Regions from separate parts of the Homo sapiens genome. Here region 2 is linked to region 1. The links come from fine-mapping of genetic effects on gene expression. A gene starts in region 1. The other region holds a variant in brackets. All regions are shown on one strand. Distances are between the middles of the regions. Region 1 holds the start of POFUT1 (protein O-fucosyltransferase 1). Region 2 overlaps TM9SF4 (transmembrane 9 superfamily member 4).

The links. PIP is the estimated chance that this variant, and not a neighbour inherited with it, causes the effect.
Region 2: its variant is the best candidate, but not a certain one, in a credible set for the expression of POFUT1 in whole blood (INTERVAL, PIP 0.58).

Annotation. Positions count from the first base shown.
Region 1 is chr20:32,205,405-32,210,774 of GRCh38, reverse strand. It overlaps POFUT1 (protein O-fucosyltransferase 1), which reads right to left and starts at 2,895. Exons shown (of 7, transcript NM_015352.2): 1 at 2,710-2,895; 2 at 583-704. The coding sequence starts at 2,833. It overlaps PLAGL2 (PLAG1 like zinc finger 2), which reads left to right and starts at 3,032. Exons shown (of 3, transcript NM_002657.3): 1 at 3,032-3,134. RefSeq lists enhancers at 2,556-2,685, 2,148-3,061, 4,977-5,026 and a silencer at 2,826-3,245.
Region 2 is chr20:32,138,550-32,143,919 of GRCh38, reverse strand. TM9SF4 (transmembrane 9 superfamily member 4) reads right to left here. Exons shown (of 18, transcript NM_014742.4): 4 at 2,255-2,423; 5 at 2,025-2,154; 6 at 815-938. Among named protein-coding and RNA genes, the nearest start is that of TM9SF4, 32 kb to the right of the region's middle. The variant A/G (reference allele first, on the strand shown) is at 2,755.

The DNA.
Region 1 (5,370 bases):
CTGGAAGACACAAAGAATAAGCAAGGAACTGGGGGCCGGTGAGCATCGCATGACAAGGGAGCCCCTTGATGGGGTGAGAGGCAGCACTGAAGCCAGACTACCTGGGTTGTGGCCTTGGACATGTCATTAAATAACCTGTGCCTGCATGTCTCCTTTAAAATTGATAATAGCATCTGCCACCCTTGGCCAATGGAATGCACAGAGGGTAGGACCAATCAGGGAAGGAAATGGAGGCTTTAGGTTCAAGTCACAGGCTCTGGAGTCAGACAAAGATAGCTTTGAATTCCAGCTCTCCTACTCACAGGCTGTGTGATCTTGGGCAAGTTACCTAACCTCTGTAAACCCCGGTTTCCTCACAGGCAAGTGATGAGGGTGAAATGAGCTAATTCTCATGCAGCCGCACACAACAGGTGCTGGATAAATAAATGTTAGGCATTGTTATTGCAGTGAAGACAGTTCTGGCTGGAGGTAGGGAAATCTCAGAGGAGTGGGAGGTAAAGCCCAGAGGACTTGAGGGTTAAGTGTAAGTAAGCAAGACTGAGAAAGGGCGGAGAAAGGCCAAGGTCAGTGGGAAGTACTCACGTTGGTGAAAGGAGGCTTGTGATGCTGGTACTCAATCCAAGGAGGGACAGCCAAGGTACGGTTTAGCAGCTTTGCAAATGCCAGAGAGCCCAAGAAGTGATCGGCCTGGTTCCCAAAGCGCCCTGGAAATGGTACATTGCGGGTGAGGTGAGGCCTGGGGCATGGAGGGCATAGAGCATGCAGGGCTCAGAAAGGTTGTGGAGCCAGGGGTAGAAAGTCAGGGATACCAAGGAGAACTAGGGGAGCTGGCAGCATAAGAACAAGTCTGGACTCTTGGGTCTGATATCCAAGGCTCTTCAGGTCCTGCAACAACTGCTTCCGCCACTCCAGGTTTCTTGCTGTTTCCCCAACATGCTCTACAATTCCCATCCCCACCCAATGCCTCTGATCTTGCTGTCCCTCAGCCAGAAGAGCTTCTACCTCTATCTCCATTCACCTGCACATGGACGGGCAACTCGAATGCCTCATTCACTGGGCTCCTTTCACCAATCCCCTGCCATACTCACTCTCCCTCCTTTACCTCCCACCTTGGCTCTGAGCTACTTCAGTTCTTCAATTTTCCTCAAGTATCTTTGCTCACTTCCTGGCCTTCGTACTGGCTGATTCCTCAGCCTGTGAATGCCTCAGAAGCAAGGACCCTGTGTGATTCCTTTTCTTAATCCCAGCATGGCACCTGTTCATTCATTTCACAAATATGATTGAGAGGCCACAATGTGCCAGACTCTGTGCTAGGTGCTGGGATACAGGAATGAACAAGAAGGACAAGGCCTCTGCCCCTAAGGCACTCACAGTTCACTGCAGAGACACTAAACATGTAAACAAATACATGAAAAATGTTGATAATTGCCAGAAAGAGATGAAAAAAGTTTGGTGATAGGGTAATGAGGAGATTACTTGGGTAGAGGTCAGTGAAATCCTTTCTGGTGACATTTAGGCTGAGATCTAAAGGATGGGAAACAGCTGGTCAGGCAGAAATGGAGGAGAGGATTCCAGGCATAGGGACCGCCACCTGCAGCAGTGCAGACTGGAAGACCTGAGCATGTGTGAGGAACGCAAAGGAGTTAAGTGTGGCTGCAGCTGGAGGATCAGCAGAGAAGGGAGTTGTGGAGATGGCCAGTGGAGGCCACATCATTCAGGGCCCTGAAAGTCATGGTCAGGAGTCTGGAAGCCACTGGGGGCCTTAAGATCATCCACTTCCACAATGATGATCCACCATACCCATTTCAACTGTGCACCTGGCATGGTCTTTAGATTCTCCCCTACCCTGCTCTCTTTATTTTCCCTTAGTATTCATCATCCTCTATGAAACTATGTATTTATTGTTTTATGTTTACCCCTTTTTGGGTTTGCTTGTTTCGAGACAGGGTCTCACTCTGTCACCCAGGCTGGCAGTGCGGTGGCACGATCAGAGCTCACTGCAGCCTCGAATTCCTCGGCTCAAGAGATCCTCCCACCTCAGCCTCCCAAGTAGCCGCCCAGATAACTCCCAAGGGACTACAAGCACACGATACCACGCTCTGCTTTTTTTTTTTTTTTTTTTTTTTGAGATTGGATTTTCACTATGTTGCCTAGGCTGATCTCGAGCTCCTGGCTTCAAGTGATCCTGCCTCGGTCTCTCAAAGTGGTGGGATTACAGAAGTGAGCCACCGCGCCTGGCCTACTTATTCTCAATTGTTTGTCTTCCCCAACTAAAATGAAGGCTCTACAAGGACACGGAGTTTATCTTATTCACTGCGGTATTCCCAGTACAGAGAACAGGGCCCGGCACAGAATAGGTGCCCCATAAATATTTGCTGAATCAATGAAAAATCACCAGGAGCCAGCGTGGGTCAGTGACATCAAGTCCTGCCCCACTAACTCCATTTACTGGACCCTGGACTGGCTTAGACCTCAAGCAAGTCACGTAACCTCTCCCAGCCTCAGTTTTCTCATCTGTCAAATGGAAAGTTGGACACGTTGGCCCCTCTGTGCCCTTGCAACTAAGGCAGAGAGGAGAAGAGCATGCCCCGTCCCGCTCTGAGGTTCTCTCCTGGACCTGTGAAGGTGTCTCTGGGCGCATCTGAGGAGTGGCTTTTCCTCTCCCGGCCTCAGTTTCTCCATCTGAGCAGAGGGCTTGGGAGGCCTTACCCATGCAGGGGCAGTAGAGCAGGTAACCGGCCGGGTCCCAGGAGCCCGCAGGCATCCCCGGGAGCGGCAGAAGCAGCAGCAGGAAAGACACGCTCAGCGGCCGTGCCCACGCGGCGGCGCCCATGTCGGCCCGGGAACCCGAGCCAGCCGCGGCGCACAGTCGGGGAGGGAAGGAGGGACGCGAGCGCCCGCCCCGCTCCCAGCGGTCCCTGCGCGCCGCCCGCGCACCGCCCCGGCCGCTCTAGCCCGCGGGCGGGCGGGACCATAGAGATCCCGCGGCACCGCCCCCTCCACGACCCGAGCGCCCGCTCGCGCGGCTCCCACAATGCACCGCACAATGGCCCGACCGCCGCCACTACCGGGGCCTGAGGGGGCCTGGCGGAGCCCGAGCGCGGCCCGGCCCGCAGCGTGGGGCCCCGAGCGCGGTGAGTGCCGGCGAGGGCCCCAGGGGACGGCGGGGAGAGGGGCGGGAGGCCGTCTCGCTGCGTCCGCGCGCCCTGTACCCGGAGCGGCGGCGCGCCTCATCTCGGGCCCCTCAGCGCGGTCGCCCACACCCCCGACCCGGGGCCCGGTCTGCGCCAACCCGGCCCCAGATAGGCCCTGGGGTGACGAAAACTCTCCCTGGACCCCATACCTGTGTCTGGGGGACCCGAGGAAGCCACCGGTCCCCTCCCTTCCGAGACCTGGAGACGCAGTCCTGAGGGTCCCCCATTCCCGACCCCTAGGCTCCCTGGAGACCCAGATAAGGCGCTGCTGACCTTACCAGGGACCCGGGTCTGGGGGACGCAGATAAGCTGCACCTGCTCCCTCCCTCCGACACGCCTACCCAGACCCACATAACCCCCTTTCCTGCTCCAGATAGCCCGCTCTGTACCCTGTTTCATTTTCCAGACTTACATAACTCCCTTTGAGGCTTCCCTCAAATATCTGGGTCTGGAGAAGTCGAATAAGCCCCACCTGTAGTTCCCTCCTCAGTGGCCATACTCCCAGGCTTTCGACATCTTCCATCCCGTTACCCATTTTGAGACCCTCTTGAAATTCAGAGGATACACTTCTGACTATCCCCATCCCCCCAGCCTTCCAGCCCTTATAATCCCCCATTTCATTCTTGTGGGGATCCCTTAGAGACCCAGGAAAGTTGCTCATGATTCCTTCCCATCCTCGCTCTTCCTTCCCATCCCAGAGACTCCCTCCAGACTTCTCCCTGGATTTCCTTTGCTTCTCCAGCCCTCATCCACTCCCATCTCTCCCAGGCTCGGGGAATTGAACCTTTCCCACACCACAGTGGGGTGATCTAAAAGTTGGCCTGGGACCAGGCTGTGGCCCACCTTGGTGGGGAGAAAGGGGCCTGTTAGGTGGAGGATATGGGGACACCTGTGTGGGGGAATCGGTGCTTTCACCTGCAAGCTTAGCCTGTCTCCTGGCTTGTGTGTTTTTCCACCTGTCAGCCATGGGACTGTGTGTAGAGTCTGGTCTTGGGTTTCTAACCTTTCTCTCCTAAGGTGAGGCCACCAGATTGGGAGCGGGGGTGTCGAATCACGTTTTCTCCCCATGAAAATGGGGTTGTGATGAGTTGCAGCCATTTGTTCAAGGCCTCCCCAGGAGTGGGAGGCAGCAGGAATCTGAGGAAATAGTGAATCAAAGAGACTCCAAAGAGGGCCCATCTACACTGACAGAAGAATTAGCAGCCTGAGAGTAAATCCAACCCCTGTTAATCCTGTTTGATGTTTCTTGGAATGGTGCAAGTCATTGAGACTCTCCAGCCTCCCTGTAATTTAATTCTCCCACCACTCTGGAGTGGGCGGGGGGGAAGGGGGCGACAGCATTCCCATTTCCCCTCTTCTCACTGTTTTCCAGCCAACCAGTGTGTTTTAGGATTTGTTTCTGGTTCTGAGATCAGGATCTGTTTTTTGTTTTGTTTTGTTTTGTTTTTTCTTTCCTCTAAGTCTATTTATAATTTCCCAGTTGCTATTTTGGGTTCTGCTTAAGGGAAGATTCTATCCCAAGGAACGTTCTGGGTCTATTTCCTCCGGCAGGTGTTGAATTGAGTTCTTCAGATCCCCAAGTAACTCTTGGGCAGGAGGATAAAAGCTATTTTAGGGTAGTCACTGAAGTGGAGCTGTTAATCCTCTGTGGGTCTCTTTAGTTAAGAACACTCAAAGATTAACCCTTTCCTTGTGCAGGGGTGTTATCTCTCAACTGTTTTTTAGGGGGGAGTGAGGAGAATTTGAGTGTGGCAGCAGAAGGTGGAAACATGCAACTCAATACAAAGACAAAGATAATAGCTCTCTTTTGTTGGGTACTTCTAGCAGGCCAAGCTCTGTGCTGAGCCCTTTGCATACCTCACTAAAATAATCCTTACAGCAAGCCTGTGAGGTAAGTATTTTTAGCTTTACAGATGAGGAAACAGGCTAATAATGGAGAAAGAACGCAGTTTCTATAGAGATGATGTAACACCATAAAAACTATAGTTTCATCAGAGAGCAGCAGGCATCATGGCCCATAACAGGGGACGGACAGACTGGGGAGAAATATGTCTCAGTTTCAGCTTTCAAAGAGGACCATACAGAGTTTTTAGCAAGCATTCCTGTTTGGGATATGGAGCCCTAATAATACAAGAGAGTATAGGAAAGTGGCTCTCTGCTTAAGAGAGAACTCTGG
Region 2 (5,370 bases), 67 kb after region 1:
GACTCTAAGCTTGAAGAGCCAGTGGGGGAGCAGGTGGCCTCAAAAGCGTCACACATGCAAACGTAGAACTGCGCTCGGGAAGCTCCCAGGGGAGATGTGCTATGGAGCTCTTGAAGGGCAGGATCTATGTTTGGGACTTCTGTGTCTAATTTTGTTTGAACACTAAGTTCCACAGTGGAAAAAAAAAAAAAGTCCAAATACCACCAACATGGTCAAAATCCTGGGCATGCTGCTTAATTAAAAAGCACACTGTGATGATCAAGGGCCAAGAGGTGAGGCAAAGCCGGACCAGCTCCTGTGAGGCCCATCAGGACTGTGCTGGACTCTCAAACTCCCGCACACCTGTTGACCCTGGGCAAATTTTAGTTTATGCCAATCACTCACACAGCGGGAGAGGAACGAAGAAACCTGCTGCCTACAGGCTTTGTCTGTACCCTGGCCCCTTGTTCTCAACCCAGGGTGAGCTGGCTGGTTCTTGTGAGGAGGCCCAACAAAGCCCCAACTTGCTGTTTGGTCTTGGCCAAGTCACTAGCTCCTTTTGAGCCTCTAGTTCTTCCTTTGTAATCATCACGTACCTCCTGGGGTTGCTGGGAAGGGGTAAACTAGTAAGGTGTCTAGCCCGTGACACTGCAGCTGTCAGCTGCCCCCACACCCCGTCTTCTCTAATGAGAATACCATGATCCTACCTTGGCTGGGCCCACACGCCACACCCGAGCCCATCGGCCAGCTCAGGAGGGAGAAGAGTGCGAAGACCCTGCGTGGAGAAGCCCAGGCCCATCCAGCCCTGCCCCTCCGGCCACACCTCCCCACTCACCCTCCAGCCTGATGCTCTGGGGAATCACCTCGAAGCGGACGACACGGTACGTGTGCTCCTGGTCCTCTTCCATGTCCTCCCGATGATAGTAAAGGATGAATGAGAGGTGGTTGTGCAGGTAGATCTGAAACACAGCAACAGAGAAAGCACAACAGAACATCACTTAGGGATACTCTCCAGGTATTAGGGCCCTTGCCTCACCCAGCATGCCTGGTTGTACCAACCTTCCTAAAACACTGTTCTCATCACTCCCCTACTCAGAAGCTCTTCAAGGGCTCCCTGCAGCTTATCAGACAAAAGCCCATTTCTCAAAGTCTGGCATTCAAGGCCTTCTATCATCTGACCCTGATACAACTGGGTGTAATCATCTAAGTCACATGAGTTCACCTAGACTCCCCTGTGCCCACCGCCCCATGAACCAGTCTCTACCCTGCAATCACTCCAACTAGAATGCCACCCCCAACTCCACTCAGCAAAAGCCCACCAACTTCTCATGGCCCACCTCCTCTGTGACAACCTGAGTGTAAAAGGAGCTCCCTCTGACCTCGCCTGCAATTAATGGCCAGTGAAAGGCAGCTGGGACTGGAGACTTAGAGCCTCCCACTGTCGGTTCTCTTCCCAGTTAGGACAGACGCCCTTTGGGGACAGGGGCTGCACCTCAAAACACATACTTTTGTAATTTATTCCCTAACTAATATCTTTCAGTTTAGAAAGAAAGATAAGAGAATCAGGGCTATAATCATCACATTATTAGCTGATTCTCCAGGGCTGTGCTGGGAAGGGCTCACACGAATGTGCTAATTTACCCCGCCACTGCTGCTGCATACATTTTACAGCTAAGGAACCACAGGCTCAGGGTCACTTAGACAACTAGTAACTGGGAGAGGAAGGATTCAAACCCAGGGAGCCTGCACGCTCTTGACCACTACTTAGCCCTCTCTCCTACATACTGATGAAGTTCCACGGTTTTTTTTTTTATGTTGTTTTAATCTTACAAAAATGGAACCTAACTTCCTAAGAATTGTGGCTTCACCTCCCTGTAGCACCTCCCAGGGACTTGCCCGGAGCACTCGGACCTCTGACAGACCATCATGCCCAGGGCACCTGGAGAAACTTGCTGTGGCCGAGCCCCACCTTTTCTGTGGCCCCAAGTGCTCAGGACTCGTGAGGTGTGGCTCCCGGTCCTGTGAGCACGCCAAAGACACTCTACCTTGTTGACATCTGTGAAGCCGAGCCGGTAGCCGTGTTCAAACTGCACATCTTTTTCCTTCTTCTTGTCATCGCTGTCTCGGTTGGAGTAGAGCTCCAGCCGGGTGGCCACAGGCAGGTTGTCAGCAATGCTGGAAAGTGAAGGCCCCACTCAGTCCCTCTCGACCGCCTCTCCCGTCAGTGTCCTCCCCTGTGTGAGCCTGAGGCAGCAAGGAGCACAGGGCGACTTACAGGTGGACGTAGTAGTCTTCTGTGATCCGCTCGGCCACGAGTCGGCTCTGCTCCACTGTCAGGGTCACTGGCTTGTTGGACTGGCTGCACAGAACTTCACACTTCTTCTCGCTGTTCATGAGAACCTGGAAAGGGGTGTTGACAATCCGGTCCCCTCTCAGCACCTCTCCTGCCGTAAGAGAGACAGATCAAGCTCAGAGCTTCAGCCCTGAGGTTGCTGAGGTCAGCAGAGTCACAGAGACACAGGACTGCGGGGCAAACATGGGCTTTCAAGGACTTCAGCAGTGCCTCAGCCTGGCAGCCAATGCCCTTCCCATTGCTTCACGCCCAACGGTCCCAGCTAACCTCGACCTGCCACCCTCCTCCTTTGGGCTCTAGTGCTACCAGACCCCTTAGCACTCAGCACTCATCAAGCATCACATCCTTTTTTTTTTTTTTTTTTTTTTTTTGAGATGGAGTCTCGCTCTGTCACCCAGGCTGGAGTGCAGTGGCACGATCTC[A/G]GCTCACTGTGAACTCTGCCTCCTGGGTTCAGGCCATTCTCCTGCCTCAGCCTCCCGAGTAGTTGGGACTACAGGTGCATGCCACCACGCCCGGCTAATTTTTTGTATTTTTAGTAGAGACGGGGTTTCACCCTGTTAGCCAGGATGGTCTCGATATCCTGACCTCATGATCTGCCCATCTCAGCCTCCCAAAGTGCTAGATTACAGGTGTGAGCCACCGCGCCCAGCCAAGCATCACATCCTTCTATGCCTCTGGGCCTCAGTCGCTTCCTTCTCCTAGAGTTCCCTGCCCCATGCTCCTGGCCTCCCCAGAAGCCCAGTTTCCATTTCACTCTCTCTGGGAAGCCCTCCCTAACCCCTTCAGGACAAGCCCATCACTCCCTCCCCTGACTGCCCTGTGTGAGGGCAGCATTATGCAGTGGAGGGATGACTCTGACTCTCGGCTGCCTGCCTTAGCAGTCTTGGTAAGTCACTCCATCTCACTGAGCCTCAATGTCCTCATCCATAAAATGGGATAATAACAGTATCCACCTCACAGGGTTACAGTGAGAAATAAAGGAAGTCAATCCAATAAAGTAGCAGGCACAGAGTAGGCAGGCATCAAACGCTCTTTTATCATCAGCATCCGTTCCTATGTCAAGGATTTACTTTGCACAATGTGCTGATACAGTCATGTTTCTGGCTCCCCTACCTGACTATGAGCTCGTTACTGTTAAGACTGTTTCCTATTTATCTCTGTGTCTTCAGATCCTGGTTCCAGCAGGGAGGGGAGTGGGGTGAAATCCAGCACCTGAGATTTTCAGGCAAAACGTCTTTTGACTCAATGAAGTGGCACCCCTTGTGTGCCTTTTGCCTCAGAGTAACTGCTGCCAGATGTCACCCTAACAGGCACTGAGCAGTTAGGGACTATCAAGCAAACCCCATGGTGCTTTCATTCTGAGCTGTTCAACAATTGATGGACAAGATGAAGACTAATTAACACCTCCACATGCACTTGGTCTCGCACTTTTCCTCCAGTGTGGATCTGCTCGACAGGGCACTCTCCCTAGTCATCTAGTCATTCATTCATTCATCCGTGAACATGTACTGGGTACTGGCTACATGCCAAGCCCTAAAGATGCAAAGTTGAATAGATGTACTCATAGAGTGCATGGCCTAGCAGGAAGATAGACTTTGCTGAATAATCAGCAAAATGAGAATATATAACTTGCTGCAGACACAGGGGAGTGGGTCTAGGACAGCTTCCCTGAGGAAGGGGTACTTGAAAGGAAGAGAGATGTTAACTGAGCAAAGAAATAGGAGAATATTCCAGACAGGACAGCATGTGCAAAGGCCCCTTTGGGGTGGGGGAGGCACTGAACCTGAAAGGCCTGTGTGGCTACAGTGCAGAAGGCTCAGATGAGCTGCAGAGATGGGCCAGTACTCAGGGGGCCTGTGGGACACACAGTTTGATCTTGACCAGTTTGACCTAGAAAGCAACAAAATCCAATGAAGGTTTCTAACAGGGGTAGAGAAAGACGTTATCTGAGTCTGGTTCCAGAAAGATCATTCTGGCTGTTTTGTGAAGAAAACAGAGGATGCAAGGAACTGGCGGTGAGCAGTGGTGGTGGTGGGGGGCAGTGATGGCAGTCAGTCATGCATGAGTGACACCGGTGACTGGAACAGGTGCTGGTGAGGGTAGAGAAGAGTACACAGATTCAGGAGCTCCAAGGAGGTGAAATCCAGGGGAAGCAGTGCTGACTGTAAACAAGGCATGAGTGAGGGATGGTGCATATTAGGAAGACTCTGAGGTTTCTACAACCAGGTTCTAGGTGGGAAAATAGGAAGAACAGCAAATTTACATCGAAGGCATTTTCAGTTTGGATATATCAAGTGGGCACTTAGATATCAAGATCTGAGGCGCAGAGGAGAGGTCAGGGCACAGATGGAAGTTGGGGGTTATCGGCCCACAGATGGTAAATGGCAGGGCCGCGAGCTACACCGCTGTAGGCGCCAGCACTCTGCTGTGCAAAGTAGCGGCCCTGGCAAGCAATGCTTTCAGTGTGGAGGAGGCACTCAGGAGAGGGAGAGATTGAGGAAGGGCATGGATGAAGGCCTCACCCCTCCACCCTGTTTTGGAAGGCTGGCAATGCAGGTGAGTCTGCAAAACCCAGGGATGGATTGGCCAGTGAAGAGCGAGGACACAGTAAGATATCTGCAGAGCCCACTGCTGAAATGGCATTTTATAGATGACAAGCTGAGGATCAGAGACCTGCTCGTGGTGATATGAGGGGGTGGTGGTAATGCTAAATCCCTGGCCTCTTTCCTCTATACCATTTCCTACTGCCTATTTCATCTCCTGTCAATGAGGATCTTGCTTGAGGAGAGAAAGAGCTACAGAGAGGAACAGGGCTGCAGACCAAGTACAGTGGAATCGCTTCTTGATATTTAAAAATTAAGTTTAGCCAAGAAAGGGGACATAATGGTCAGGAAATGGCTCATTTCTATTTCTTGTTTTTGTTTTGTTTTTGAGATAGAGTCTTGCTCTGTTGCTCAGGCTGGAGCGCAATGGCGCAATCTCAGCTCACTGCAACCTCTGCCTCCTGGGTTGAAGCGATCCTCCTGCCTTAGCCTCCC